Linked DNA regions of Homo sapiens. The protein of the gene in region 2 interacts with the protein of the main gene of each other region in a biochemical or structural test. Each region holds a gene or a part of one and is shown on either strand. Other genes may lie near its edges. The genes, in order: FRMPD4, PODXL, PDZD2, DLG5, SHANK1, LIMK2 and MAST2.

What was found.
Region 1: the proteins of PODXL (region 2) and FRMPD4 interact in a test that uses a peptide from one of them, tested with the Homo sapiens proteins (one large-scale study listed by IntAct).
Region 3: the proteins of PODXL (region 2) and PDZD2 interact in a test that uses a peptide from one of them, tested with the Homo sapiens proteins (one large-scale study listed by IntAct).
Region 4: the proteins of PODXL (region 2) and DLG5 interact in a test that uses a peptide from one of them, tested with the Homo sapiens proteins (one large-scale study listed by IntAct).
Region 5: the proteins of PODXL (region 2) and SHANK1 interact in a test that uses a peptide from one of them, tested with the Homo sapiens proteins (one large-scale study listed by IntAct).
Region 6: the proteins of PODXL (region 2) and LIMK2 interact in a test that uses a peptide from one of them, tested with the Homo sapiens proteins (one large-scale study listed by IntAct).
Region 7: the proteins of PODXL (region 2) and MAST2 interact in a test that uses a peptide from one of them, tested with the Homo sapiens proteins (one large-scale study listed by IntAct).

What each region holds. Positions count from the first base shown.
Region 1 is NC_000023.11:12,141,473-12,144,972, forward strand, and holds part of FRMPD4 (FERM and PDZ domain-containing protein 4), read left to right. Parts: intron 1-3,500. UniProt on the Homo sapiens protein: Positive regulator of dendritic spine morphogenesis and density. Required for the maintenance of excitatory synaptic transmission. Binds phosphatidylinositol 4,5-bisphosphate.
Region 2 is NC_000007.14:131,499,771-131,502,199, reverse strand, and holds the end of PODXL (podocalyxin isoform 1 precursor), read left to right. Parts: 3' UTR 1-1,929; downstream 1,930-2,429. UniProt on the Homo sapiens protein: Involved in the regulation of both adhesion and cell morphology and cancer progression. Functions as an anti-adhesive molecule that maintains an open filtration pathway between neighboring foot processes in the podocyte by charge repulsion.
Region 3 is NC_000005.10:32,090,131-32,093,630, forward strand, and holds part of PDZD2 (PDZ domain-containing protein 2), read left to right. Parts: coding exon 1-1,045; intron 1,046-2,776; coding exon 2,777-2,894; intron 2,895-3,480; exon of another isoform or gene 3,481-3,500.
Region 4 is NC_000010.11:77,916,756-77,920,255, reverse strand, and holds part of DLG5 (disks large homolog 5), read left to right. Parts: intron 1-3,500. UniProt on the Homo sapiens protein: Acts as a regulator of the Hippo signaling pathway.
Region 5 is NC_000019.10:50,713,303-50,716,802, forward strand, and holds part of SHANK1 (SH3 and multiple ankyrin repeat domains protein 1), read right to left. Parts: coding exon 3,363-3,500; intron 3,177-3,362; coding exon 2,973-3,176; intron 2,429-2,972; coding exon 2,357-2,428; intron 989-2,356; coding exon 880-988; intron 648-879; coding exon 496-647; intron 1-495. UniProt on the Homo sapiens protein: Seems to be an adapter protein in the postsynaptic density (PSD) of excitatory synapses that interconnects receptors of the postsynaptic membrane including NMDA-type and metabotropic glutamate receptors via complexes with GKAP/PSD-95 and Homer, respectively, and the actin-based cytoskeleton.
Region 6 is NC_000022.11:31,215,298-31,218,797, forward strand, and holds part of LIMK2 (LIM domain kinase 2), read left to right. Parts: intron 1-3,500. UniProt on the Homo sapiens protein: Serine/threonine-protein kinase that plays an essential role in the regulation of actin filament dynamics. Acts downstream of several Rho family GTPase signal transduction pathways.
Region 7 is NC_000001.11:46,020,112-46,023,611, forward strand, and holds part of MAST2 (microtubule-associated serine/threonine-protein kinase 2), read left to right. Parts: intron 1-1,838; coding exon 1,839-1,971; intron 1,972-2,798; coding exon 2,799-2,860; intron 2,861-3,121; coding exon 3,122-3,207; intron 3,208-3,500. UniProt on the Homo sapiens protein: Appears to link the dystrophin/utrophin network with microtubule filaments via the syntrophins. Phosphorylation of DMD or UTRN may modulate their affinities for associated proteins. Functions in a multi-protein complex in spermatid maturation.

The DNA.
Region 1 (3,500 bases), on a different chromosome or scaffold from region 2:
TTTTGACTTTTTAGAGTGTCTACATTTAACTATTCGTTTCCAGAATCTATACCCTTTTAATCGTGGGAAAAATCAGAATTGACAGTGCCCCTCAATAACCCAGTACCATTAAAAAAAAATTGCTGCCAAGTGTTGGAATTGCTGGTAAGTAGTTGGCACCCTTTACATCATCAGTTAGAGTTATGACCCTTGATTGCATCCTTCGTGGGTGGCACAGTGTGTCATGGTTCTATCTGAAGATGGTTTTTCCCGTTCTTCTAATTTTCTGGTTCTTAAACTGCTTGATAGTTTACATGCAGTTTTACTTCACTGTTTCCTTGGTAACAGTTCTATATTATTTTCCATCCTTGTAGATGAGAGCATTACAGATGATTGCCTTATAAACCAGTAATAGTATAAAAACAGGCATATATTTTTATTGTTACTGCTCTTTGTATTGACTATTTTATTTGTAAAGCAGATGCATTCTTTCAAATGTTTATAGAAGAATGCAGTCCAGTAGAAAAACATATGATTATGCCCCTTTTGCCAGAGGGAGATGATTTGAGATCCAAAACTCATAGGGATGTTATTAAATTGAGTGATATGTTCATAGATTAAGTCCCTGATTTGGCTTCTTTTCTTTAAGCAAAACGGTAGACTTGATGATAATGATTGAGTCCCCACTGTTGATATGATGATTTCTTATAGTAGTAGGTAAATTTGGGGAATGCTTTACTTTGCATTTTCTTATAGTTGCATGGGTTATTTTGTGGTATATAGCAGTGACTAATATCTAATATTAGAATGCTAATTTTCTTACAAGTATCTTATATTTGAGGAAAAATACAAAATACATATGTATAGTTTCCTTAGATTTTTATGTCAAGTCCATTTAGATACTACTAAACTTCTGTCTTTTACCTTTATCTTATTCAGAATTAAATATTTCCCAGGGAAAAGGGGAAGTTAAAGAAGTAATGCAAAAGGTCAGGGTTTTTCCCATATCCCCTATTTTTACTGAGTAATTGTATTAATATTGCTGATAATAGTGAGCTCTGGAGGCTAGCAATGAAAAAACCCCAAAGACTCTGGATTTGAATTTTATTAAAAATGCTACTTGCTCATCTTCTGAATCCTTTCTAAGTTCTGCTGATTTTTGTGACTGTCAGGAGGTGAAATGATGAACAGTTTCATAACAGAACTAGATTCCTGTTTTAGGAATATTTAACTCTAGTTTCCCAAGAGTTGCTAGTTTGAAGCTGTGAAAGTCTAGTCGCTCGCAGTTCTGGGAAGAAGGCGTCTAGGTCAGGCTTTGTACCATTTCAAGCATCTCTCTCTCTCTCTCTTATTGTCTGGGGCAAGTGAGTTTCACCTTCTTGCTATCAGAATTTGGTACAGACTGACAGCTGCAGTGAAACTTACTTGTACTTTAAATGCATGACCTGGAAAGTCTCACTTTCTGCTTATGGTCCTTCCAGCTGTTCATTCTCCCCCTTTACATACACATACACTGTTCAACTTTAGTACTTTGTTATTTCATTTGAGGTTAACCGTGGAAGTTTAGCTGTAAGAGAATGTACATTATTGGTGAACTAGAAATGTATCTTTAAGGAATGAACTTGAAACCACTGGTTTCACACTTGGCTCAATAAGAAAACTCAAGACCGTTTAAAATCTTTGTTTAAGCATACCGTCCTGAAATCTACCACTGTTACCATCAAATGATCTTTAATCTTGAAAGCTAATCATAGCAGGAAAAGAAAATTATGAATAGGCTAAAACAGGGGTTGGCATACTGTGGCCTATGAGCCAAATCTGGCTTGCTGACTGTTATGGCATAGCCTGTGAGCAAAGAATGGTTTCTTTATTTTTAAATGGTTCAAAAATATCAAAAAAAGAATAATATGAAATTAAAATTTCAGTGTCCATAAATAAAGTTTTATTGGAACACATGTCCATTCATTTATGTATTATCTATGGCTGCATTTGCCTGACAACAGCAAAGTTGAATAGATGCCACAGAGACCTTATGGCCTACAAAGCCTAAAATATTTACTCTCTGGCTCTTTACAGAAAAAGTTAACTGACCCCTGGGTTAAACAATGCCTTTTTCCTGTTTTCTCTTCTTTATCATTAGCAGCACACATGTGGGCACACACATGTCAAATCGAGCATATTATAATAAATACTTGAATTCACTGACCCCTGGGTTAAACAATGCCTTTTCCTGTTTTCGCTTCTTTATCATTATCAGCACACATGCGGGCACACACGTCAAATTGAGCATATTATAATAAATACTTGAATTCACTAATGCACATTACCAGTTAATATAGACCTTATCTTTATTGAAACTTCTGATCTCAAATTACTTCTTGAACTGTTGGAAACTGACCATTAGAAGTGGACATAATTGTCCTACTAATTTGTTGCACTTGGAAAAATTATGCATGCTTATTCTTTGGTCACTAAGTTGACCTGATATTTTTGGGGAGCTGGAGAGTTGCTTGTTAAGGTGATGTTTGCCTTCCATAAATATCCAGTTCAAAATGTATGGAAAAAGAATGGGTGATACTACTTGTATAGCCTCAACCAATGTGTGCTGGTGAACTGATAATCAAGTCAACAGGAGAATGCCTAGTATTTCCTTACAGTACACTTGAGCCATCTGGTCCTAATGGCTAATGACCTTCACTAATCTGTTTCCAAATGGAAATAAAACCAGATAAGTGGATTTAGTTGTAGTCAGAGGAATGGAGGTAGGCTGTATCAATTTGGAGTTGAGTTTAATCTAACTTTCCTATGATTTGACTGAGAGCATTATAATGAGAAATCATAGACTACCTTTAGTTCTTTACAGCAAAAACATATATCAAAAGTATGCTGCCTTGCTTCTGAGTAATTTAGGTCATTATGTACTTAAGCTCTGAAAATTATCTTGAAGAAATCTAAGCCTTAGTTTTAGATAACAAAGTTAACATTCCCATTTTTTTTTTTTTCCTGGCAAAGAGATGAGAAGGGTTTTCTGCCAGAACTGTTCTTTCAGAAATATATTTTCAAGTATGGTTTACAGAATTTGGCATAAGATAAATAGTCTATACTAAATAATTAGTGAGTGAAGTCATATACAATTCATTCTAACATTTGTTGCAAACAAATTGTCATATTTGTTTAGCTGAACAATTACCATGTCAGTACTTCTTTATTGAATATAACGGAATACAATGTACATGTTAAAAGTAAATAGCCTGCTCTTGGACTTGGTCTCAGAGAATAAACTTTTATTTCTGTTTTTACATTTGAAGTATATATATATTATATATATAAAATATAATATATATATTTGGTGATTGATGGTTAAAAAGTCATCAACTTGTATTTCCAAGGAGTCTCTGTTTTACTGCTTTAAGCTCAATAAGCAAAGTTATGATGATATTGAAATGGGTTTTTATAGATGTCAGTAAGTTTTTATTTTAGAAAGTCTTTTTTGAAAGCTAGGAAAACACAATCATTTCTAT
Region 2 (2,429 bases):
TGTTGTGGTCCCGTGGGAGAGGCCAGACTGGATTATTCCTCCTTTGCTGATCCTGGGTCACACTTCACCAGCCAGGGCTTTTGACGGAGACAGCAAATAGGCCTCTGCAAATCAATCAAAGGCTGCAACCCTATGGCCTCTTGGAGACAGATGATGACTGGCAAGGACTAGAGAGCAGGAGTGCCTGGCCAGGTCGGTCCTGACTCTCCTGACTCTCCATCGCTCTGTCCAAGGAGAACCCGGAGAGGCTCTGGGCTGATTCAGAGGTTACTGCTTTATATTCGTCCAAACTGTGTTAGTCTAGGCTTAGGACAGCTTCAGAATCTGACACCTTGCCTTGCTCTTGCCACCAGGACACCTATGTCAACAGGCCAAACAGCCATGCATCTATAAAGGTCATCATCTTCTGCCACCTTTACTGGGTTCTAAATGCTCTCTGATAATTCAGAGAGCATTGGGTCTGGGAAGAGGTAAGAGGAACACTAGAAGCTCAGCATGACTTAAACAGGTTGTAGCAAAGACAGTTTATCATCAGCTCTTTCAGTGGTAAACTGTGGTTTCCCCAAGCTGCACAGGAGGCCAGAAACCACAAGTATGATGACTAGGAAGCCTACTGTCATGAGAGTGGGGAGACAGGCAGCAAAGCTTATGAAGGAGGTACAGAATATTCTTTGCGTTGTAAGACAGAATACGGGTTTAATCTAGTCTAGGCACCAGATTTTTTTCCCGCTTGATAAGGAAAGCTAGCAGAAAGTTTATTTAAACCACTTCTTGAGCTTTATCTTTTTTGACAATATACTGGAGAAACTTTGAAGAACAAGTTCAAACTGATACATATACACATATTTTTTTGATAATGTAAATACAGTGACCATGTTAACCTACCCTGCACTGCTTTAAGTGAACATACTTTGAAAAAGCATTATGTTAGCTGAGTGATGGCCAAGTTTTTTCTCTGGACAGGAATGTAAATGTCTTACTGGAAATGACAAGTTTTTGCTTGATTTTTTTTTTTAAACAAAAAATGAAATATAACAAGACAAACTTATGATAAAGTATTTGTCTTGTAGATCAGGTGTTTTGTTTTGTTTTTTTAATTTTAAAATGCAACCCTGCCCCCTCCCCAGCAAAGTCACAGCTCCATTTCAGTAAAGGTTGGAGTCAATATGCTCTGGTTGGCAGGCAACCCTGTAGTCATGGAGAAAGGTATTTCAAGATCTAGTCCAATCTTTTTCTAGAGAAAAAGATAATCTGAAGCTCACAAAGATGAAGTGACTTCCTCAAAATCACATGGTTCAGGACAGAAACAAGATTAAAACCTGGATCCACAGACTGTGCGCCTCAGAAGGAATAATCGGTAAATTAAGAATTGCTACTCGAAGGTGCCAGAATGACACAAAGGACAGAATTCCTTTCCCAGTTGTTACCCTAGCAAGGCTAGGGAGGGCATGAACACAAACATAAGAACTGGTCTTCTACACTTTCTCTGAATCATTTAGGTTTAAGATGTAAGTGAACAATTCTTTCTTTCTGCCAAGAAACAAAGTTTTGGATGAGCTTTTATATATGGAACTTACTCCAACAGGACTGAGGGACCAAGGAAACATGATGGGGGAGGCAGAGAGGGCAAGAGTAAAACTGTAGCATAGCTTTTGTCACGGTCACTAGCTGATCCCTCAGGTCTGCTGCAAACACAGCATGGAGGACACAGATGACTCTTTGGTGTTGGTCTTTTTGTCTGCAGTGAATGTTCAACAGTTTGCCCAGGAACTGGGGGATCATATATGTCTTAGTGGACAGGGGTCTGAAGTACACTGGAATTTACTGAGAAACTTGTTTGTAAAAACTATAGTTAATAATTATTGCATTTTCTTACAAAAATATATTTTGGAAAATTGTATACTGTCAATTAAAGTGTTTTTGTGTAAACTGGTTCAAGCTCTAGTAGTTTCCTCGGACTTCTTAAAGCCTTCACTTGTGTATGAGGCTCATCGCCAAAGTGCCTGAGAATGTCGGCTCACACCCGTAGCACAGGAGCCTCCGTGCTGAGTTACACTTGTCCAACTCTGCAGGCAAAGAAATTAGGCAAGAGAAGGAGAGAAACCGGAAGAAAAAAAAAGGGGGATCCTAAAGGTGGTTATGAGTCTTTATGTTACTCAAGCTATCCTAGTGACTCTAAAGAACCTCACTTTCCCCTAAGATGACGTTGTATGTTTCGCTGTCTTCCTTCCCTCTACTTCTGCCTCAGATACATTGTGAATCACCACTATCAGAAATCCCCAAGAGGGCTGCTGAACATTGATCAGGTATGAAAACACTGGCAAAGAGACTATATATATACATATATATGTGTGTGTGTGTGTGTGTGTGTGTGTGTGTATGTATATATATATATATATATATATATATATATATATATGTAAAAACAA
Region 3 (3,500 bases), on a different chromosome or scaffold from region 2:
AGTTCTCAAGCCATTTTGGACGGGAGGGTCACCCCCCACACAGCCTGGGTCGCTCTCGGGACAGCCAGGTCCCTGTGACAAGCAGTGTTGTCCCCGAGGCAAAGGCATCCAGAGGTGGTCTTCCCAGCCTGGCTAATGGACAGGGCATATATAGTGTAAAGCCGCTGCTGGACACATCGAGGAATCTTCCAGCCACAGATGAAGGGGATATCATTTCAGTCCAGGAGACGAGCTGCCTAGTCACAGACAAAATCAAAGTCACCAGACGACACTACTGCTATGAGCAGAACTGGCCCCATGAATCTACCTCATTTTTCTCTGTGAAGCAGCGGATCAAGTCTTTTGAGAACCTGGCCAATGCTGACCGGCCTGTAGCCAAGTCCGGGGCTTCCCCATTTTTGTCGGTGAGCTCCAAGCCTCCCATTGGGAGGCGGTCTTCCGGCAGCATTGTTTCCGGGAGCCTGGGCCACCCAGGTGACGCAGCAGCAAGGTTGTTGAGACGCAGCTTGAGTTCCTGCAGCGAAAACCAAAGCGAAGCCGGCACCCTCCTGCCCCAGATGGCCAAGTCTCCCTCAATCATGACACTGACCATCTCTCGGCAGAACCCACCAGAGACCAGTAGCAAGGGCTCTGATTCGGAACTAAAGAAATCACTTGGTCCTTTGGGAATTCCCACCCCAACGATGACCCTGGCTTCTCCTGTTAAGAGGAACAAGTCCTCGGTACGCCACACGCAGCCCTCGCCCGTGTCCCGCTCCAAGCTCCAGGAGCTGAGAGCCTTGAGCATGCCTGACCTTGACAAGCTCTGCAGCGAGGATTACTCAGCAGGGCCGAGCGCCGTGCTCTTCAAAACTGAGCTGGAGATCACCCCCAGGAGGTCACCTGGCCCTCCTGCTGGAGGCGTTTCGTGTCCCGAGAAGGGCGGGAACAGGGCCTGTCCAGGAGGAAGTGGCCCTAAAACCAGTGCTGCTGAGACACCCAGTTCAGCCAGTGATACGGGTGAAGCTGCCCAGGATCTGCCTTTTAGAAGAAGCTGGTCAGTTAAGTAAGTATCTGCCCACTACTTTTATTTCAGATAAACTTGTTTCATTTTGGAATAGTTTTAGATTTATAGAAAAGTTGCAAAGATAATGCAGAGTTCCCACTTACTTTTTTTTTTTTTTTTTTTTTTTGAGATGGAGCATCGCTCTGTCGCCCAGGCTGGAGTGCAATGGCGCGATCTCGGCTCACTGCAACCTCTGCCTCCCGGGTTCAAGCGATTCTCCTGCCTCAGCCTCCTGAGTAGCTGGGATTACAGGCGTGCACCACCACACCTGGCTAATTTTTGTATTTTTAATAGAGACGGGGTTTCACCATGTTGGTCAGGCTGGTCTCAAACTCCTAACCTTGTGATCCGCCTGCCTCGGCCTCCCAAAGTGCCGGGATTACAGGTGTGAGCCACTGCACCCGGCCACTTCTTACCCACTCTTCCTAATGTTCACATCTCTCATAACCACGGTCCATTCGTCAAAAGTAAGAAATTAATGTTGGAGCAATACCATTAACTACAGACTTCATTCAGATTTTGCTGAATAAATTCTGCTAATATCGTTTTTCTGTCCCAGGATCCAGGATACTACATTCCATTTTAGTGCCCTTGGTTTTTAATATCACTGCTGGAAAAATAAAAGTGCCTGCAGGGAAACATGTTTACCAAAGTGTCGCTCTGAGGAGAGGCTTCTAGAGGACATGGCACTTAAGCAAAAGCAACATGAGAGGGGCATGCAGAGGAAGAGAGAGCACAGCACGGGGGAATTTGGACTTTGGAGGTGGCTGGAGTTAAACGGAGAATTTCTAACATATTTAAAAATATTTCACTTGAGGCCAGCCGTGGTGGCTCACACCTGTAATCCCAGCACTTTAGGAGGCTGAGCCGGGCAGATCACTTAAGGTGAGGAGTTCAAGACCAGCCTGGCCAACATGGTGAAACCCCATCTCTACTAAAAATACAAAAATTAGCTGGGGATGGTGGCAGGCGCCTGTAATCCCACCTACTTGGGAGGCTGAGGCAGGAGAATCGCTTGAACCCAGGAGGCTGATGTTGCAGTGAGCTGAGATCGCGTCACTGCACTCCAGCCTGGGCAACAGAGTAAGACTCAATCTCGAAAAAAAAAAAAAAAAAGCCAGGCCCAGTGGCTCAGGCCTATAGTCCCAGCACTTTGGGAGACCAAGGCAGGCGGATCACTTGAGGTCAGGAGTTCAAGACCAGCCTGGCCAATATGGTGAAACCCTATCTCTACTAAAAATAAAAAATTAGCCAGGCGTGGTGGCAGGTGCCTGTGATCCCAACTACTCGGGAGGCTGAGGCACGAGAATAGCTTGAACCCAGGAGGTAGAGGTTGCAGTGAGCTGAGATCGTGCCACTGCACTCCAGCCTGGGTGACAGAGCTAGACTCCATCTCAATAAAAATAAAAATATTTCACTTGAACATATGTATTGAATATTTTAAAACATGTCAGAAGTGTCCTGTTAAGCTCCAGCATTGGTCCCATAACTTCTTGAGGGGATCTCTGAATTCATAGCAGTTCCCCTTGCCATTGGCAGTGAATGACATTTCTGTTCAGCACTCAGGATTTATTCTTCCATTAGTTTGGAATGGAAGTTTTGACCAAAAGAGAGCAGAAAATACCTGTTCTCTTTTGTATAGTAGAAAGGAGATCATTTTAAATGCATTCTTATAAAATGAAGAAATTGCTTTTTTCTTTAATGTTCTTCAAATATATTTATATTATTTAGTTTGGATCAACTTCTAGTCTCAGCGGGGGACCAGCAAAGATTACAGTCTGTTTTATCGTCAGTGGGATCGAAATCTACCATCCTAACTCTCATTCAGGAAGCGAAAGCACAATCAGAGGTGAGTGAAACACAGAAAGCTCAGGAACATGAATTGCGGCCGCGTGAGTGCCCAGGTATGTGCTGCCTGCCCAGACAGCCGAGGAGAGCCCGCCCCGAGTCCTGGAGAGGGAGGACTGCCTTGGGTTGCGAGTTTCACAGCTCAGTCTGACTTTGGCCTCACGTGCTGCTAGCCAGCTTCAGAAGCTAGACCTTGTCTTGAATGTTCAGGTGCCAGATGGGTGTCACTGCTGTTTTCATCCCCCAAGTAGCAACTAGTTACCATTCTCCTAACTCCTATGTGTGGAGTTTGTTTGCAGAGAGTCCTCAAAGCAGAGCTAGTCATCTCGGAAATACCTCTCGCCACCTAACTGTGGACATAAACTAGTCAAGGGAGCCACCTGCTGGTGAGAGAAGAGTTACATTGGTGTAGTCCCGCCGTTGCCCTGAAATATGGTGGACCCCTGAACAACATGAGGGTTGGGGCACTGACCTTCGAGCAGTGGAAAATCCACATATAACTTTTAACTCTCCCAAAAACTTAACTACTAACAACCTACTGTTGACCGGAAACCTTACTGATAACATAAACAGTCAATTAACACAAGTTTTGTCAGTTATATGTATT
Region 4 (3,500 bases), on a different chromosome or scaffold from region 2:
TGTGCTATTTGACAATCCATGGTAGGAAAAATGGAAGAGCATTTTGTTACCCTGAGTAATATAGCACAACAGTGGCAGTAGTAGACAGCAACTAGCCTTAGAACCAGAAAACTGGGAATCTCCTGGTGTTTCTGAGGGTTCTGTGGGAGCTCCTTGTATACTATGCCAAGCAGGTGTCAGAGCTGTCCTCCCTGAGCTGAATTTGCTGTTATAGTCCTCATGCCCAGAATAGAGCCTAGTACAAGATAGGTGTTCGATAATTTTTTGTTGAACGAATGAATAGTCAGCTGTGTGTAGAGTGAATGATGTATCCTTGTCCAGATCATCTTCAAATATACATGCAGATTCCTAAGTGGTGACCTCATGGTGGCAGAGGCTGTGGGAGAGGAGGAAGGCTTGAGCAAGCCCCAGATGTACACAGGGATATCACCGCCCACGGTATGTCTGTGATGGAAGCAGGTGGTGTGACATTGATGTCTGAAGTTCCCAAGGTTGCCCATCAGGTACTGGTGGTGTGGAGCTGGCTGCCAGGAGCCATGTGGAGCACCCACGCTGTCTAAGAGTAGAAAGTCATTCCCTTTCTACACATAGAATTTGAATGTCAACTTGATGTCCTCAAAAGAATACTGAGGAACTTTTCTTTAAAAAAAAAAAAAAAAAAAAAAAAAAAAGCCCTGAACTGGAGATCTGTTCCTAACTGCAAAATCTTGACCTTGGCAGAGCCTTTTAGCTTCCTGGTGCTTGTTTTTTTTTTTTCCCCCAGTTCAACAGTCAAAACAGAAGAGGTTGAGCATTGACGGGAGACTTGCTCATTCCTGTGGGGTTTTGAGCACTTCCCAGGTGGCATTTGGTCCAAGGAGGTTGGGTGATTGGGTTGGACTCGATTTTGGGGGCCCTTCCAGCTCTACATCAGGATTGCTGTTAATCTGATTTAATGTTAGTGTTGAGTGGTTTTTGATACTCTGGTTTTCCATTTCCTGAAAAAGTAAGCAGAGTAGGATAAATATTTTGTTTCAGTTTTTTTTTTGTTTGTTTGTTTTGAGATGGAGCCTTGCTCTGTCGCCCAGGCTGGAGTGCAGTGGTGCAATCTCAGCTTACTGCACCCTCTGCCTCCCAGGTTCAAGTGATTCTCTTGTCTCAGCCTTCCGAGTGGCTGGGATTACAGGTGTGTGCCATCACCCCCGGCTAATTTTTATATTTTTAGTAGAGACGGGATTTTGCCATCTTGGCCAGGCTGGTCTCGAATTCCTGACCTCAGGTGATCCGCCTACCTCAGCCTCCCAGAGTGCTGTGATTATAGGCATGAGCCACCACTCTCGGCCGTTGTCTCATTTTTTTTTGTCCCACCTCATTCCAACCACCTGTATGTTCTGCCCCATGCGAGGGGGCTCTATAGTCGTTTCCTGAAACCCTGGGAAGATGTGAGCCACAGAGGTAGCAAACATAGAGAAAGAGGGCTGAGCTGCGTGTTGGCCTGGACAGTAGGGATGCTATGTGTGTTCAGCAGGGAAGAATCTTAAATGGGATTGCGCTGGGGGGAAATTGGATTTTTTTTTCGCCTTTTACCTGGGATAGACTGCATTCCTCTGAACGGTGTATCTCTATTGATCTTTTTGAGACTGCGTTCCACAAAAGTGCTACAGAAACATTTTAAACCAAATAGAGATGTTTGGAGCGTCCCATGTTGGCAGTCTATCCCTCTAAACCCTTGGTAGATAATTCCTGTTGACCTTGACGTTCATTTCACACTAAGGCTCATAACCCATTTGCTTTGAGGATTTAAACAAAATTGTGATAATAATTTACATAACATGAAATTTACCATTTGAACCTTTTTTTTTTTTGATACAGAGTCTCACTCTGTCACCTAGGCTGGAGTGCAATGGTGCGATCTCGGCTCATGCAACCTTCGCCTCCCCAGTTGCAGCAATTCTCCTCCTTCAGCCTCCCAAGTAGCTGGGACTACAGGCATGTGCCACCACACCTGGCTAATTTTTTTGTATTTTTAGTAGAGACAAGGTTTCCCCATGTTGGCCAGGCTGGTCTTGAACTCCTGACCTCAAATGGTCCGCCCACCTTGGCCTCTCAAAGTGCTGGGATTACAGGCGTGAGCCACCGCACCCGGCCTTGAACCATTTTTTATTGTGGAAAAATATATATAACATTTACTATTTTAATAACTTTTTAAGTGTACAAATTCAGTAGCATTAAGTTTTTTGTTTTTTGTTTTTTTTTTTGAGACAGAGTTTTGCTCTTGTTGCCCAGGCTGGAGTACAATGGCATGATCTCGGCTCACCACAACCTCCGCCTCCTGGGTTCTCCTGCCTCAGTCTCCCGGGTAGCTGAGATTACAGGTGCCCACCACCACGCCTGGCTAATTTTTGTATTTTTAGTAGAGACGGGGTTTCACCACGTTGGCCAGGCTGGTCTCGAACTCCGTACCTCAGGTGATCCACCCGCCTCGGCCTCCCAAAGTGCTGGGATTACAGGCGTGAGCCACTGCGCCCAGCCAGCATTAAGTATTTGTACACTGCTGTGCAAACATCAGCACCATCCATCTCTAGAAATTTTTCATCTTGCAAAATCGAAACTCTGTACCTATTGAATAATAACTACATGGCCCCCTAGACCTTGACAGTCACCATTATATGAATATTTCCTGTCTGTCTCTTTTTTTCTTTCTTTCTTTCTTGCTGTCTTTCTCTCTCTCTCTTTCTTCTTTTTTTTTTTTTGGAGATGGAGTCTCACTCTGTTGCTCAGGCTGGAATGCATGGAGTGCGGTGGTACTCATGGCTCACTGCAGCTTCAACCTCCCATGCTCAATTGATCCTCCCACCTCAGCCTCCCGAGTAGCAGGGACTATAGGCACATGCCACCACACCCAGCTCCTTTTTTTGTTTGTTTGTTTTTTTTTGAGATGGAGTCTCGTTCTCTTGCCCAGGCTGCAGTGCAGTGGCGCGATCTCGGCTCACTGCAAGCTCTGCCTCCCGGGTTCACGCCATTCTCCCACCTCAGCCTCCTGAGTAGCTGGGACTACAGGCGCCCGCCACCATGCCCGACTGATTTTTTGTTTTTGTATTTTTTTAAGAGACGGGGCTTTGCCATGTTGCCCAGGCTGGTCTTGAACTCCTGGATTCAAGCGATCTGGCCGCCTTGGCCTCTCAAGTTGTCCGTTTCTAGGAATTTGACTACTTTAGGTATCTTTTATAAGTGAAGTCAATACAGATTTGTCTTTTTGTGACTGGCTTACTTCTCTAAGCATAAAGTCCTCAAGGTTCATCCATATTTTAGTATATGTCAAAATTCCTTTTTTAGGCCGAATAATATTCATATATATATATATATATATATTCTATATTTTATTTGTTTCTTTACCTGTTGATGGACACATTTGGGTTGTTTTCACCTTTTAGCCATTGTGAATAATGCTGCTATGACACCATGGGTGTACAAATATCTCTTCGAGTCCCTGCTTTCTCTTCTTTTGGGTTTATACCCAG
Region 5 (3,500 bases), on a different chromosome or scaffold from region 2:
AGTGCATTTGAGGCTGTGTACGTGGGGAAGGGGCTGTATTTGCATGTGAGAGAGGAGGGAGGGGAGCTGGTGCAGTGCTGGTTTGGAAGGGTAGCTGGGGGGCTGTTTTCAGGGTGTGTGTGGAGGGGCTCTATCTGGGGGCATAGCAGGGAGCTCACTTCGTATTTTAAGGAATGAGAAGGGTTTACACCTTGGGGAGACAGAGGCAGATTTGGTATTAAGCTGGGCCACAGGGGATGGAGACGTTCTGGGTGTTTAGGGGAGGAGGCCGTGCCCGGGTCTGTGTGATGTCAGCTATAGCCCAGGTGGGTGCATCTGGGGGGCCTGACAAGGGTGACAATAGGGGCTGTGTCTCAGTCTATGGAAAGGGGCTTTGAACTGGGGACATGAGAGGGCCTATTTTTAACTGAAACCAAAGAACTGAGGTTTGAGAAAGAACAAAGGGAAAAGGAGAGAGGGCCCCATGGCGGGGATGGGGGGTCCCCGAAGCCTCACCGTGAGTGCCAGGCAGTGTCGGGCGCATGCGGCCTTATGCAGTGCGGTCATGCCATCCCGGGCCCGGAAGTCAATGTGGGCCCCGCCCAGGCACAGGGTTCGAATCACCTCTACAGAGCCTTCGGTCTGGGCCGCCAGTGTCAAGGGGGTCTCTGAAGGGCGGGAAAAGCTGGTCACATGAAGCCCCTTCTCCTCCCCTCCATCCCTTCCCATTTTCCAGGCTCTGCAGCTCTCCACCCCACAGCCTCTGGCCCCGTGGCCTCCCCCTTGGACAGCAATGTGTTTGGGAGACACCAGTCAGGAATGGATGTGAATGCAGATGGCACCCCTGCTCCCCAGCTCTGTCCTGGCCCTGAGGTCCTCCTGATGCGCACCCCTCCCTACCTCCCGAATCCGAGTCATGGTAATTGGGGTCCAGCCCCTTGTCCAGCAGCCGCGCCACCTTGTCAGATGTCCCGAGCTGCACATACTCCAGGAACTTCTTCAACCCCGTCTGAGCCATGGGCAAAGAGAGAGAAGACAGGACAGTCAGGAGCAAGGCAGAGAAGCAGGGTCCTCAAGCAGCGACGTCCAGTGAAAATATACGTGGAGTCACATACGCCATTGAAAAGCTTCTAGCAGCCTCCTTTACAGAGAAAATACCCAGCCCTTTGGGAGGCCGAGGCGGGAGGATCACTTGGGCCCAGGGGTTCGAGACCAGCCTGAGCAACAAAGTGAGACCCTTATCTCTACAAAAAATGCAAAAAACTAGCCAGGTTGTGGTGGCACACGCCTGTAGTCCCAGCTACTCGGGAGGCTGAGCTGGAAGGATCCTTTGAACCCTGAAAGGTTGAGGCTGCAGTGAGCCATGATTGCACCACTGCAGCCCGGGTGACAGAGCAAGACCCCGTCTCAAAAAAAAAAAAAAAAAAAATCAGGGTGGTTGGGGGTGAAGTGTTAGTTGTGTTGAAATTCGTGTTAATGATATATGTTATTTAACTGATATAGCTACAATGTTACTGTTTCAACAGGTAATTGAGATGAAAATTATTAATGAGGTTATTTAACTTTTTTTTGGTACTAAGTCTTTGAAACCCAGTGTGTATTTCACACTCACAGCGAGTCTTAGTTGGGACCAAACACACTGCAAGCACTCAGGAGCCACACTTGGCCAGTGGTTCCCAAAGTGGACCGTGAAAGTCTGGAGGGATGGAACATTTAGGGGAGGAAAGAGTTCAATGCATGCTGTGGTGGGGAGAGGGTAGACAAGGAGGGACTGGGAGTTTTTCCTTCTCAAGGATCAAGAGTTCTTCATTTCTGACCAAAGCAGTTCCCGATTTCCTCCCAGCTCTCACCATCGAGACACAGGACAGACAGGGGCTGAGGACTGGCGGGCAAGGTACCAGGAGGACAGATATGGCTGGAAAGGGGGGTGTAATGGTTGGATTTTGCAGAGATTCAGGCTATGAGGTTGGGAGAAATGTAGCCTGTCTTTGAAATAGACTCTAGGCAGAAGGACCTTCAGTGTCAGGGTCCTAGGCCAAGGTGGGGAAGTAAAGAGGCCTTGGATGGATATGGGGGGAGGCAGGGGAAGAGAAGGGAGACTCAAAGGAGGCCAGGTGGGAATGATGTGGGCCCAGGCAGAGGGATGAAGGGCAAAAGAGGAAAGTAAGAAGGGGTTGTGATGGGGATAATGGGGGGTATTTGTGGTTGTCTCAAATGTGGTACAGCATCCCAAGTTAAGCGGGGGCAGTGGCCAGAGGGATCGCTGGCTTGGGGAATGTGGAGGTCTATTGGGAAGAGGTGGGGAGAGAAAGTGGTTGGGTAGGGGGCTCCAGTGGTAGGGGGCTATAGGGGATAGATGCCAGCAGGGTTTTCTCACCTTCGTGTGCAACTTGGCCAGCTGCTTCTCATCCAGGTTGGTCTGTTTGTAAACTCGGGTCTTGTATCGGAACTGAGGTCAAGGGTAGGGTAGTGAGAGAGACACAGAGACTTGGAATCAGGGGCCTGGGGAGAAGGCTTGGGGTAGGGGAAGGTCTGATCCCCTTCTAATTCCCCGGGGTAGCTCAGGGTGGGAGTGAAAACAGCCCTGGAACCTTGGTCTAGGCGGTAGATGGGTGGCAGTGGCTTTTCCGACAGTGCTGGGTATTATGGTATATGTGCACTGCAACCCCTGCCTTGAAGGAGGAGGAGTCTGGACCCCACAGGGAATGTTCTAGAGTGCCTACTGTAATTGGGAATCCTCCCCCAATTTGATGGGTGAGGAGAAGCTTGGGGCAGGAAAGTGACTTGGCCAAGGCCACTTAGCTGGTCAGAAGCAGAACAGATGGTAATTTGAACTCAGGACTCTCTGACTTCCCTGTGATGCTTAGAAGGTCTGGACTCGCACACTGGGTGCCCCCTCGTTAAGGTTTCGAGTGTGTTAAAAAGTGGGTGGGGGGCAGATGTGTTTTAGGGCATGCCTTCTCTTATCAGTGAAGGAGTTGGGGAAGCTTCACCTCCAGGTAGGGGACCCCCTTCTCAAAGGACTGGGGGTACTCCCGCAGCAGCCTCTCCTCCTCCAGGAAGTTGGCATCGCGGCCGGAGGTGGCCGGTTGGAACAGGCCATAGTTGAGCACATCCTGCAGGCTCTCGCTCAGGGCACAGAGCACCTGCTGCTTGGCCGTCCAGATGGTGGCATCGGGGTTGAAGCGAAGGCATTTCTGGTTGGGGAAGAGATAGGGGCTAGGGTGGGCCAGGGGCCAGAGGAGAGCCTGAGGTGGGTTGGGAAGTGAGCCAGGAGCTGAGTGTGGGGGTGATTCCTGGGAGGATACCCAGCACCAGTGGACTCCCCATGTCGGTTGGGGCACTGTCCCTCTCCTGCCGCTGGCCAGTGGGCAGGTACTCACTGTCTGGTGCAGGTCCGGGATGCCAATCCTGAAGACCATCATGCTGAAGTGGGCGTCGTCTGGGACGGACATTGAGCGGCCCTGGAGGCCTCTAACAGAGGCCAGGCTACCAGGTGCCCCACTGCCCTGGCCCCGGGT
Region 6 (3,500 bases), on a different chromosome or scaffold from region 2:
AAACCATGTTCTGAGACACCTCAGATTCCTCGTGTAACCGGAGAATCGATAACAAATCAAATATTTACTGAGTGCCTGTGATGTCTGTGGCACTGGGCAGGACCAAGTTTTACCTCTTATAAATTTTAACAGGTGTTAGAGCCAGGAGAGAGTTTTGAGATAATGTATAGTCTCCTTGTTTTACCTATGAAGAAACTGAGGCTCAGGGAAAAAAAACGGAGTTGTCCAGGGTCACTCAACTAGTGGTAGAGCCAGAACCAAGGTAAGACTTCTGCAGTGTTCTTTCCAGTATTCCAGGCTGCTTAAGACGTACAGGGTCTGGCACATGGTAAGCCCTTAATAAGTATTTGTGGAAATGAGTTATATATAGTTTGTGCCTCTGAGAAACTTACTGTCTAGTTAAGGTAATTAAGGCAAAAAACAAAACTGCCATGCTGATCAGTAGTGGGATTGCGCCTGTGAAAAGCCACCGCACTCCAGCCTGGGCTACATAGCAAGATCCCCATCTCTTAAAAAAAAGAAAAAAATTGATAAGACAAGCTGTTATAAGGCTTGCGTATGATAACATTATAGAATTTCAAAGATGAGGGAGAATTCTCTTCAAACATTTATTCCACAAATATATATTGAGTTCCTGCTATGTGCTAAACTCTTTTGGCCCCTAGGGATACAGCAAGGAACAAGATAGACCAAATCCCTTCCCTCATGTAGTGTATGTTCTGGTGGGGAGAGATAGACAGCAAGTAAATGTATGAACATCATATTCAGGGATAAATCCATTGAAGAGAAGTGAAGTAGGGTAAGGGGATAGAAGAAGTGAGTTGTCAGGGAATGTGTTTGGCATGTTTAAAGAATAGCAGGGTATCCAGGGTGGCCATCAGTTTTGGTTAGGGAATACTTCTTGAAGTGGGTAAGACTTGAGAAATCTTAAATAGGCTTAAAGAAGGTGGGGAAGATGATATCTTAGTAGGGAAGAAACTTTGGGAGTAGGAGACAAAAGTAGGCAAGTTTCAGGTCTTCATAAAGGGTAGCAAATACGTGTGGTAGAGGCAAGGATTGGGAGGTGGAAGATTCATAGGAAGTGGAAGGTACAGCTGAGAATGTGGGTGCAACCGGACTAGAGGGTTTAATGCCAGGCTGAGGATTTTGGAAGTTTCTAGTCTACAGTAGGCACCGTAGGTTTAGAGAAAGGAAGACTCATGATGTGGGCACAGGGCCACCAATCTGGAGGTGGGTATAGTGGGCCCTGAGATGAGGTCTTAGTGGTAGCAATGAAGAAGGCACCAACCAATAAAAGATGCCTCCTGACATAGGCAGGCCAGGGTGACTTGGATGGTCCTGGATATGTGATGGAGCAGGGTAGGGTCCAAAATGACCACAAGATTTCAAAACTAAATAAAAATCCGTCATGATCAAGGGGCTGTATTAGGCTTTCCACATTCATGGTGGATTTTCTGCATCTTCTGGAGGCTGAGCTGATTCCCAGAACAGGGCTGCCTTCTTGTTAGTGTAACCTTGAGCGGGTCTGATAGGGCCCACCATCACACACATCTCATTTCAATGAGAGGACCTGAAACTGTAGCAGTCTCTTACAAGTCTACCTTCTTTCTCATCCTTTATCTATTTTTATATAGTAGAAAGAATTAGACTATTTTACCTATTAATTTACATTGAATAGTAACTAGAACATGAAACCAATGCCTGGTTTCATTAAAGTGTTCCTTGAACATTCTTTCTGGGATTCTTTTTTATCATGTCTTTCTGCCTGTAATTTGTTTTGTCCAGGAAAGAAAGTCTAAAATGTAGTTAAAGACAGGCTTTGAGCCAGGTGCAGTGGCTCACGCCTGTAATCCCAGCACTTTGGGAGGCTGAGGTGGGTGGATCACAAGGTCAGGAGTTCAAACCAGTCTGGCCAAGATGGTGAAACCCCATCTCTACTAAAATACAAAAATTAGCCGGGCATGGGGGCAGGTGCCTGTAATCCCAGCTACTCGGGAGGCTGAGGCAGAGAATTGCTTGAACCTGGGAGGCAGAGGTTGCAGTGAGCCGAGGTTGCACCACCGCACTCCAGCCTGGGTGACAGAGCGAGACTCCGTCTCAGAAAAAAAAAAAAAGACAGGCTTTGGAGACTAGACCTGTGGTCTAATCCCAGCTCAAACATTTATTAGCTGAGTATTTCAGTTTCCTCTTCCGTAAAATGAGAACAATAATAGTTCTTTAAGACTAGTCCTGATCTCATGGGATCTTTGTATTCAGTTAGCTCATACTTGCGTAGTGCTTAGGACATTGTCTGGCATAAAGTAGTTTTTTTCCTCTATCATTGACAACTGGCAGAGAACTGCTGTATGAGAATATATCAATTGGTTAACCAGTTCTCTGATAAAGATATTTTTATAGGCCCTCCATAGATAAGAAAATGCCTACTCATTCACAGTTGAGTGAACTTCTGGTTGGAAGTTGCAGTCTGGGTGGCCTGAAAGACATAAGAACCATCTGTCTCATTTGTCACTGCAGTGTATTTTGTTAATGTACTGAGTTTGCCTTGCCTGTAGCACCTGGTTTGTCCCTCTCTGACATGTTATTTCTGTGTATATCCATGTCCTTCACACCCCATGAGTACACACCAAGGGCCCCAGTAATTCCTGGCCTACTCTGTGCCTTGTACATGGGCACATAGAAAAAAGTTTGCTGAGTTTGTTTTGAAAACCTTCCCTTCAGATTTTAGAAGTTTCTGTATTCAGCTTAACCTTTTCCCCAGCCAACTTCCTAGATACACACGCAGGAAGGAAGAGAAGTTAGTCACAAATCGGTCCAACTAAGTGCCTGGCACCATGGGAGATATTTTCACATCTATTACATTATTTCTATTAATCCACTTGGTAATCCTGTAAAGCAGGTGGTATTATCCTCTTTTTAAAGATTAGGAGACAAGCTCAGAGAGGTCAAATAATTTGCCCAAGGACACAGAGGCAAACAGTGACAGATTCAGGTTTCAAACACACATACATTTACCCCTCACAAATTTTTCCAAATAAACCAAAGAAGGGAAGAAGAGAATAACAGCAAGAAGGAAACTTTCTGAGATACCTGTGTCTGTGCCTTAACCTGAAAAAGGAGAGGCCCTTGGTTTGGTGTCAGTCTCTCAGAGCTGGAAGAAATCACTTGATCCCTCCTTTTACAAAAGAACAATCCAAGGTTTAGAGAAGCTCGAAAGCTCTTTTAAAAATCATCTAATCTTTTTTTTTCCTGAGACACTCCTTTTGGTAAAATTTGGTAAGCTAGTGAGGAAGAAAACCCTTTGGGTTACAGGGAGAGTATCTAGAGGCATGTTAATCCTTACTGTTAGTCTTTTTGATAGTCACTTCATTAAAATGTGATCTTTTTCTCTTGGCTTTTCCCCAGCAGCTGCTGCCCTGCCCTTCTGCTTTCTGCTTTGTCCCAGAACAAGTGGGATTTATACACCTGACCCGCCAGTTCCCAAGGGGCCCAGGGGTTACCAT
Region 7 (3,500 bases), on a different chromosome or scaffold from region 2:
CTACAGTGGAGTTGGGAAGCATGAGGCATGAGGACATGTAAATAGTAATTACAATACTGCAAGAAGTGTTGCAGTTGAGGTCAGTACACAGCGTAACGGGAACCTGGAAAAGGAAGTGCTTTAGTCTTCCCTGGAAGGAACATTCAGTGAATGCTCCCTGGGGGACGTGAGGCTTATTCAGCAAACTGAAGGATGAGTCTAAGTTTCCCAGATCGGGAGCATGGGAAGGAGCATTCAGTGGGGCACAGGGTGGGTTTGAAGAAGTGCTGAGGGGTAAGCCTGGAAGGTAGGCTGTGACAGGGTCATGGAGGGTGTCGGGTTCTCGGCTCTGGAGTTTTTCATTACCCTTACGGCCACTTGGAGACACCAGAAAGTTTAGGTAAGAATGTGACATGGCCGCATTTACTTTTTTCTTAAAAAATATTATTAAGGTATAATTTTCATACAATAAAATATATCCCTTTGATGGTACAGTTCATTGAGATTTAACAAATACACACTTGTAGAATCGTGGCCACAGCTGACATAGAGAATATTTCTGTCATATAAGTTCCCTTGTGCCCCTTTGAAGTCAGTCCTCTCTTCCTCCTGCTCCCAGACAATAACTTAACTGCTTTGTTTCACTAGGGATGGGTTTGCCTTTTGTACAGTTTCCTAGAAATGAAACCATGTTTCTGTGTGGTTTCTGTAGTATGTTCTGAATTCTTTCACTCAGCATGTTTGTAGAAATTCATACATGTTGTTGCATGTATCAGTAATTGGTTCCTATTTATTTCTGTGTAAATATTACATCAGATTTAGTCCTAAGAAAGATTACTTTGGCTGCAACATGGATAGTGAATTGGAAGAGAGGGCAGGATGAGCCAGGGACATCAGGGGAGAGGTACTCAAAGCAAATTCATGTGAGATGGGGTGGCCAGAACTCAGACAGTGAATGGTAGGATAATAGAGAGAAAGAGGTGGATTAGAGGGGTATTTATGAGAGAGACATTCTGACCAAATAGGAGCTAAGGAAGGATAAGAAGTTAAAAGGACTTCCAGGTCTGGCGTAGGTTATATCCAGATAGGTACAGTTCTCCAAAACAGTGAGGCCACAGGGAATGAGAACAGAGTTCAGGGCAGAGGCTATGCTGTGATAGAGCAGAGAGCCTCTCCCTCAGGAACATGAAGTCCTTGGCTAAGCAGGGGCTTGGAGTCAGACCTGGGCTGAATGCTGGTTTTCTGTTCCTTCCTACTACTGTGATTATGGACAAATCAGTGCATCCCTGAAAGCCTTGATTTCCTCAGTGAGGTCAAAGAGTTGCTAGAGGGTTTAACCCAGTGTGTGGCACTTAGTAGGCACTCAGTTATTATGTGCAGACAAGGATTGTGCTTTTCAATGGATTTCCAGCCTCTAGCACATAGGAGGTGCCCAGTAAATATTTGAAGGTATACATGCACCAGTAGGGCTTTGCCAAAGCTCTTGTGAGCCATAATTGAGTGTGTGCCAGGACAGCTGTGGACTGGGCATCTGAATACACCAGACAGTGCCACCTGGCTGATGGAAAGCATGGGACCAGATCAATAGGCTGAGCTCTCTTTAGAGTAAAACCTCTAGTTCTTACTGCCAGGAAGACAGCATATGCTTAGCATGTCCAATCTGGAGGTGACCTGTAAGACATCTTTGTCCCCATTCCTGTGATCCCTGAATCATGTTGTTTCTGAATATTCAGGGGTGGGAGTGTCCTATCACAGAGAAAGTCTTGTTCATCTCAGTCTACTATATGCTGTAAAACCAAAGATGCCAGCAGCTTTCGCTTATATCTGTCACCACTGACTATCTCTCTCCCTTGGTACAGGAGTTTGACCCTGAAGAGTTCTACCACCTTTTAGAAGCAGCTGAGGGCCACGCCAAAGAGGGACAAGGGATTAAATGTGACATTCCCCGCTACATCGTTAGCCAGCTGGGCCTCACCCGGGATCCCCTAGAAGGTGAGCATGCTGCCTAGTGGCTGCAAAGAGGCCCCACTGCTGCTGGCAAGCTCTAACAGCAGGGAAGCTGCTTGGAAAAGAGACTTAGCTTGGACATGGACACAACATGGCCCCGGGGGCCTCAGGATTTTAGGAGATACCCTGTGATCTCTGTGACAAAACAGTCTTTACTTTGGAACTGCTGTTCACATCTGCCTGATAGATCCCAACCTGGATTGCATTGGCCCGGCTGAGTTGCATTTAGAACCTCAGTTCCAAAGAGGTCAACAACAAAGGGCCACAATCACATTTGCAAAAATGGTCACCTCCTCTGCAACTTGCCTCTACTCTTGGCCACCTTACAGGTCTTCCTGTGTCTTTGGGGTAGTCCAACACAGGGCTTCAGAGGATACTGCCATTCTTCTGGGCTTCCTGCTGAACCCCTGCAGCAACCATGGGCTTCCAAGTCCCTGGTCTGTAGGTATCCTGCTCCTGCCTTCTGTGCTTCCCAGCCCCATCCAGTGAAGCAGTCTTGGCCAGCAGGATGGGAACTAGTAACCCAGTTTCAGGCCCTGTTTTCCAGGAAATGTCCCCAGTTTATAGAATTTGCCAGGCCCTGTGAATGGCAATGGACTTCTGGAAATGGGAGTAGCAGTAGGATTTGGCTTGTTTCCTGATCCAAAAGCTGGGACTACATTGGGTATAGTGCCATGGGACTGAATTCACATCCTAGGCTGATGCAAAAAGCATTAATGACTACCCTACATGCACCTGTTGTGTGATCTGAGGATACTGCTGAGATACCTGACATTGCCACGCACATTCTTCTCTTGTATCTTTGTTTCCAGAAATGGCCCAGTTGAGCAGCTGTGACAGTCCTGACACTCCAGAGACAGATGATTCTATTGAGGTAAAAACCCTGAGCTCCTACCCCATTCCTGGAGCCTGGGCCCTATGAAGCAAAGAGCTATGAATTCTCTTTAAGAGAATATCTGAGGAAGGGATGGGGGAGTTGGTGACAGCAAACACTGAGAAGTCATTCTACTCCCAGAAGAATGAGCAGGAGACTGCACTAGAGCTGACAGCTGAGAAGATGCTAGAGCCACAGCTTCTGCAAGGATATGGGCTCTGAGAAGCATGCCTGTCTCCTGCCTTTTCCCTTGTCTTCCAGGGCCATGGGGCATCTCTGCCATCTAAAAAGACACCCTCTGAAGAGGACTTCGAGACCATTAAGCTCATCAGCAATGGCGCCTATGGGTAAAGGCAGGGGTCAGGGTGTGGCCAGGACTGAAGCCGGGTCAGCCTTTGATCTCTTCCATGTGAGAGTGTATGCTGCCCAGTCCTCTGGGCAGATGCCTCGGGGTGGACCTTCTCACTCCCAGAAGCCTCCTGGGTGGGCAGGAGTTCAGATTCCTCTGACATCCGATCATTGTTCCTTTCCCAGACAAGATTCCCACGCCTCTTACTACCACGCATCCTCCATTCCCTGAGCTCTGGGGAAGCATTGAGCCGTGTCATCAGGACATGGTCTATCAAGAAGTTTAAGAGTT